Homo sapiens: one gene and its partner. The protein of the gene in region 2 purifies or fractionates together with the protein of the main gene of each other region. This does not show direct contact. Each region holds a gene or a part of one and is shown on either strand. Other genes may lie near its edges.

Region 1 (3,223 bases), on a different chromosome or scaffold from region 2:
CCTACTCAATAAATGGTGCTGGGAAAACTGATTTGCCTTATACAGAAGAAATAAACTAGACCCTTACCTCTCATCATATACAAAAATTAATGCAAGATGGATTAAAGACCTAAATGTAAGACTTAAAAGTATTAAAATGCTAGAAGAAAACCTAGGAAAAACTCTTCAGAATGTTGGCCTCAGCAAAAAATTCACAATGAAGACCCTAAAAGCAAATGCAACAAAACCAAAAATAGATAAATGGAACTGAATTAAAATTAAAGGCTTCTGCACAGCAAAATAATCAACTAAATAAACAGATAACCTACATAATGGAAAATATATGCAAGTTATTTCTCTGAGATAGGACTAATATTCATCAGGTACAAGGAACTAAAACAATAAGAAAAACCCCAAACAATCCCGTTACAAACTGGGAGAAAAACATGAACAGACATTTGTCAACAGAAATACAACTGACCAACAAACACGTGAAAAAGTGGTCAACGTCACTAATCATTACAGAAGTACAAAAACCACACTGAGATACCATCTTATACCAGTCACAATGGTTATTATTAAAAAGTTGTCAAACAACAGATGATGGTGTCAATGTGTAGAAAAGGGAACATGAATACTCTCTTGGTGGGAATGTAAATTAATTCAGCCTCTATGGAAAGCAGTATAGAGATTTCTCAAAGAACTAAAAATAGAACTACCATTCAACCCAGCAATCTCATTACTGGGAATCTACCCAAAGGAACAGAAATCATTATATAAAAAAGATATCTGTACATGTATGTTTATTGCAGCAATATTTACAATAGCAAATTCATGGAACCAACCTAAGTATCTACCAACAATTGACTGGATAAAGAAAACGTGAGATATATATAGAGAGAGATATATAAATGGAGTATTATGCAACTATAAAAAAGAATGAAATCATGTCATTTGCAGCAACATGGATAGAGCTGGAGGCCATTATCCTATGTGAACTAAATCAGACATAAAAAATAAAATATTGCATATATTCTCACTTAAAAGTAGGAGCTAAACAATGGGTACACAGAGACATAAAGATGGAGATAACAGACACTGGGGACTCCAATAGGGGAAAGAGTGTGAGCGGCAGTAAGCGTTGAAAAATTACCTGTTGGGTACAGTGTTTAATATTTGGATGATGGGTACACTAGAAGCCCAATTCCCACCATTATTCAATACACCCATGTTACAACAAGCACATGTACCCCCTGGATCTAAAATAAAAATTTTAAAAACCTCACATTATCAATAAAAATGTGGCGGAGTATGTTCAATTTTCTTTTCTTTCTATTTCTAGCATACAAGTGAGCCCTTCTCTGCTATAAAGGAAACTGTCCATAAATCACTTAAAATGAGACTGGTTAATGATTTTTAGTAAAATACACCATTATATGTTTTTTTTCTTATTGGTTAAAGGCAATTTATTTTGAAATGTTGCTTTGGTTGTTTGCTTTCTGGAAACATATTGGAACACTTGTTTTTCATAAGCTGTCCTGACAGTGGCACAATCCCATCCATCTTCAGGCCTTTTAATAAGGTCATTATGAAATCTGAATTTCTATTAATACTCTGGTGCATTCATTTCATCTGCAAAAGCAACTGGCACAACCACTCCTTGCCGGTGCAGCTCTCGGAGAACATCTAATATTGAGTCTAGTTCTGTGCGGAACTTCTCCAGCTCACGATTCTTTAACTGTGCCAGTCTTTTCCATTTTTCAACTTCTTTGTTTTGCTCAGTTTCTACTACTTGGTGTGTTTGCTGTATTATCTGCAAATACAAAAATTCCACATTGCTGTTATAGTTCATAGTGGTGGGTGAGGAACATTTAACAATCTTAAAGTAGGCAAACCTGGGGTTTCTTTGGGGAACTCAGGTAAATCATAATGCTCTGCGTGGATGCAACATTTTCTGTCTTCAAGGAGTATATACATCCCAACTGTGTTAGGGACTAAATGTTTGTGTCCCCCTCAAATTCATATGTTGAATTTCCTAACCCTTAATGTGACTGTATGTGGAGTAAGGAAATAATGAATGTTAAATGAGATCATAAGGGTGGGGACTTGATTTGATAAGAACCAGTGTTTCCACCACTAGAGACACCGAAGAGATCATCACCAGAAGAGACACCAAAGTGATCTCTCGCCCCTCTTCCTCTCCTCTGCACACATGGTACTGAGGAAAGATCATGTTAGAATGAGAAAAAAGGTGGCTATCTGCAAGCTGGAAAGAGAGCCCTCACCAGAAACCTAACTGACCAAAACCTCAATCTGGGACTTCTGGCCTACAGAACTGTGAGAAGATAAATTTTTCCTGTTTAGCCACCCAATTTATGATATTTTGTTATGTCAGCCCAAGCAGACTAATACACTGTTCAAACCAAGTTAAATTTCAGCACCAAGGCAAGTGCCTAAAAACACATCATGCCCTTACATCTGCTATTTTTAACTTCTATTAATTTATCTGTTTATAATTAAGTATAGTAATATTACTAGTGCTAGCTATATATTTTAAATAATCATATTAAAACAATTTATTTCTTATAAACATTTGCTGAAATGACTTGAATATGGAACACCATGCCTTGTTCCCAGGGTAAGATGTGTAAGTTTTTAGGAATCCATCAATAATTAAGAACATGATACAAGTTTTTGCTTTTTTTCCAGATATAAGGATACCAATCTTCAAGCACTTGAGATATAAAGTCTCATTTTCTGGTAAAAGTTATAAATTTATTAAATTTTTAACAAGATCAAAATACACTGGAAACACTTTAAGTGGTAATTTTTGCTAGGGATGACAAAACTATAGCAAATTAAAGGCACTTAAAAGTAAAGACCTATATAAATATGTAAATGTGATTTACTTTACCTGTTGAAGTTCCTGTTCTCTTTGTGCATGTCTCATTTCCATCTGCTTAATTTTCTTTTCTAAGCCCACGAAATGTTTCATCTCTGGTGTATGGTTTTCTTTGGCTTCTCTCAATTCTTCTAAGAGTTTTGTAATCTAAAATTGACATATGAAGCAAATGAAAAACTATAATCACAAGAATTTAACAGGTAATCTTGAAAATCAGAATATTTGTATAAAATTTCTCTATATAAGTAAGAGGCACCTTGGATTGTTAGAGTAATTAATAGCTTTCATTCTCTATATCCAGAAAGTAAAGGTTCCTCCTAACTCTGAGTTGACCTCACATTC
Region 2 (3,829 bases):
TGTCGCCTCCCCATGTCCAGCTGCTGGAGGTATATAGGTTATGTAGCTACAGATGCTACTTGGATTGGGAGGTATGGGGAATTTATCAGAAGAGAGGAAGAGTTAATTATTGTGAATCTCATTCTTTCTAAAGATTGTGAATCTTAACTAAGACCTGGCACCTGACGGAAAATAAAAGGGTGGCACGCTTTGTCAGGATTCTCTGGGATTGCAGATTTAGAGCTCAGTGAGATCATCGCTGGAAATAACCTTGAAGCTGATGTGGCCTTGCTTGACTTTGGCAGTTGGACCACCCTTCTTACGCAGGTACAGAGACTTCAGATCACGGCAGTCGCTGGGGTCAGCATCCAGAGTAACCTGCCCCAAGAACTGATCACAGAATTTTCGGCTGTTCCAGACCTGGAAAGACAAACGAAGGGAGTGAAGATGAGCAGCCCTCAGTGAGATTAGCCTTTGCCCAGTGACATCCAGATCTAATGCTGAGCTTCAAAAGATTTGTTTTAAAACCAAGAGACTATTCTGTCCTTTCCTGATAGCCCATCAGTTGAGGGGAGGATACCTCAAAGAATATACATGAAAAGCCAGAAAACAGAATCTCCGGGTCGTTCTTGACCTGTGGGATGGTTACCTAAAGGCTGCTGGTCAGGAGTATTAAGTCAGAAAAACTGCCAAACTGCAGTGATTCATCCTGACCTAGCCATGTGAGGGTCCTCTGAACTGGCATAAGCTTTCCTCCATGGGATTTTATGATACGTGTGTTAACATGTGTACTGGTGAGCATGTGGGCTTTTGCCCACAATTAAATAAATGGAAGAGAGGAGATTTAGGATGGATGGTAATAAGGAAGTCAGTGTCCATGCTTGATGAGAAGAGTTTTTGAGTATAAAACAAACCAAAAAATACGATAATTCTTGCTCTGCATCCTAAACATATATAAGGTACTTGGGATCATCTAGTATCTGGTACAAAGTATGAGCCTTTCTGGCGACCCCTGTACACACTCTTACCTGTACTATAATAGGAATGTCAGTGGTCCTTCTGTAGAAAATGGCCTGGGTGTCAAAAATGGCATGAACTGTATTCTTCTGGACAGGAGAACGGACTTCCTCCTTTCCACATTTGATGACCAAATATGGGTTTACAGCTGGAACAAAGTGACATATGTTTTTAACACAGCAATTAAAGTTCCTTTTCTAGATAGACAAGAAGGTATCTCGCTAAGCCAATTCTGGGACTTTCAGCATAGCACTCGAGCACCAGAATGACTGAGATTCAACACTTTTATTCCCACTTCCCTTTCCTTTTCCATATTTTATATAGGAATATGAAAATGAATCTAATGTAGGCCTTGCTTGAAGTTGACATCCCATCCTCTGCCATGGTTGCCATCCATTCCCAACTTCTCTAGACAAAATATCGCTGGAGAAAATCATTTGTGATCATGTTTTCTAACTTATGTGCTATAAATGCAACTGAATTTTGCTTTCCCAGACATTCCTGCCATTCTTACTTTCATTGGCATACTTCTTCTCCAGGTCCTCAGCACTGTGAACAGTGATCTGAGTAACTACTTTCGGGTAGCCACGAGCCAGGTTCCAGCAGGACATTTTGGGCATGTCCAGAGTCAGTTCCCTAGAACATCAAAAATAAAATATTGTCATCATATGATAAATATCCTTTGATGAAATAAGCCCGCCAAAGCAGACATCATTGCTGAAAAGCATGAGACATTGTGTGACTTAGCCCATTCCTCCTCAGATATGTCTTATATATATTTTAAGCATGCTTTCCTTTCTCCTTTCTTTAAGGGCCAGGAGATAAAGATCAAAGTAGGCAGGGCTGGGACAAAAAGGTGGCTTTGGTGATCCAGCACACAGAACATAATAGAAGAGCAGGGAGGAGTGCTACCTACTTAAGAAAAGAGGCCATCAGCCAGAAAACAGAAGACAAATTTGATGTGGAAGAACTTAGACTATAGGCCTGTTCCTCTTTAAGGGTAGCTCAGAGCTCTGAAGTTCAGACCTTCACTGGGGAATTTCCCCCAACCACCCTTTGAGAAATATTTTTACCACCATGATTTCAGTGAATCAAGTCTGATTTAAACAAGTTGTCCCATTGAATGTCTGAAGAGGGGAGACGGGTGAAGGGGTTTAGGATTGGAAGTAAAGCAAAGAACAGGGGTTTGAGGGCTTGCGAAGGAAACTGAACCTGAGCTGGACAGGCACTTCAGAGAAGATTCTCAGGAGAAACTCGCTGGTGCGACCATGCTGGAACATGGTTGGGACAAGCACATAGTTGCCCTTCTTCAGGTACTTGCTCAGAAACACTGTGCGGGTGTCAATATAGGTGGAAGTCCCAGCACGCTCCTGGATGTAGAGGTGGTGGAGGCGGAATTTGCGGTTCATCTCCACCTGGAAATGAAATAGGGTAAAATATTCAATTCCACTCAAATCATGGTTTTTGTATGCTCTGTCTTTTTTATCCCTAGGCCTTCCATTCTTCCCCTACCATTAAATTATCCTAATTTTTACTCTGTTTGCCTTCATTCTCTCTGCCCCAAATGCCCATTTTTACCTTGAAGAGCTCAAAGCCAATGATGTAATTGTCAGGTCTTCCCATTCGGCGGTAAGTGCGCAGGTCCTTCTGCTGCAGTGACATAATGACCTTGTGCCCATCCTCAGGCACAGTGAAGATGTACTAAGGGAAAGAGACCACCACAGAGGTGAGTTAGCATTCCCATTTCATATGAACGAGCTTAAATTTCAGGGAATAAAGCTTGTCATTGGGAAGCAGAGCCTTGAGTTATTTTCTGGGCTTTCATATTTATCAGACAACAAGGTCTTGGATAATTCACTGACTTGCTAAGCGTAGACCATTAACACTTGTTTCTTTCTATGTCATTCAGCATGTGTTGAAGGACAACCTTATTCTTAGCCTTTGATGCCAAAGAGGATATGCTTTGTTCTAATAAGTTCTTGGTAAATTATTGTATTATTATTATTATTATTGTTATTATTATCCCTTTGTATTTAAATGCCATATATAGAAAAAGTTTGGAATCCATAAAGACAGAAAGGTATTTATTTGACTCAACCTGACACTACAGCATCACCCTGGGCTAGCCTCCTTTTGCCAGCCAGACATACAGCTTGTGGAAGGGCTCCTTGGAGAATTGATGTTTTGCTACTTCCACTTTAAGGAAGCTACAAGCCTGTGTCAGAGACTTTCCAAACATCATCTGGGGAATCACGGTGCTATTAGGAGATAAAACTAAAAGGCATCAGATTTTTCTCTCTGTCTCTGTCTCCATTCCTCTCTCCCTTTAGAAGGAAACATAAAACAGCTACTCAGGAGGCTAAGGCAGAAGGATCCCTTGAGCCCAGGAATTCAAGGGTGCAGTGAACTGTGATCATGCCACTGCACTCCAGCCTGGGCAACAAAGTGAGACCCCATCTCTAAAATGAAGGAAAGAAGGAAGGAAGGAAGGAAGGAAGGAAGGAGGGAGGGAAGGAAGGAAGGTAGGAAGAAAAGAAGGGAGGGAGGGAGGGAGGGAGGGAGGACTTAAAAACAGACTCTGAACTAAGGCCCCTAAGTTCAATCCTGTACATACATATAGAGTGAAGCCATTTTCCCAGCTTAGTATATGTGCCTAATACTTGAAACATTTCCAGAGTTGTAAATGGAGGTGAGGTGGTGTGTGTGGGGGGAGATAGGATATTTCTTTAGGAACAATTAAGATGGGAAGGGTGGAAGAGCAGTATGAGTTAGGTGAATCAGCCCACTAGTCTCCATATTCTCCTAAATGCCTGACCAATGAGATCCATGAAAA

Evidence for each region.
Region 1: the proteins of CAPN6 (region 2) and CEP162 purify together in Homo sapiens (affinity purification with mass spectrometry; 2 studies listed by BioGRID and IntAct, with this or other methods). This does not show direct contact.

The regions. Positions count from the first base shown.
Region 1 is NC_000006.12:84,123,485-84,126,707, forward strand, and holds the end of CEP162 (centrosomal protein of 162 kDa), read right to left. Parts: exon of another isoform or gene 3,138-3,223; intron 3,029-3,137; coding exon 2,894-3,028; intron 1,793-2,893; coding exon 1,586-1,792; 3' UTR 766-1,585; downstream 1-765. UniProt on the Homo sapiens protein: Required to promote assembly of the transition zone in primary cilia. Acts by specifically recognizing and binding the axonemal microtubule.
Region 2 is NC_000023.11:111,246,361-111,250,189, forward strand, and holds part of CAPN6 (calpain-6), read right to left. Parts: intron 2,698-3,829; coding exon 2,575-2,697; intron 2,412-2,574; coding exon 2,209-2,411; intron 1,633-2,208; coding exon 1,511-1,632; intron 1,145-1,510; coding exon 1,008-1,144; intron 400-1,007; coding exon 217-399; 3' UTR 1-216. UniProt on the Homo sapiens protein: Microtubule-stabilizing protein that may be involved in the regulation of microtubule dynamics and cytoskeletal organization. May act as a regulator of RAC1 activity through interaction with ARHGEF2 to control lamellipodial formation and cell mobility.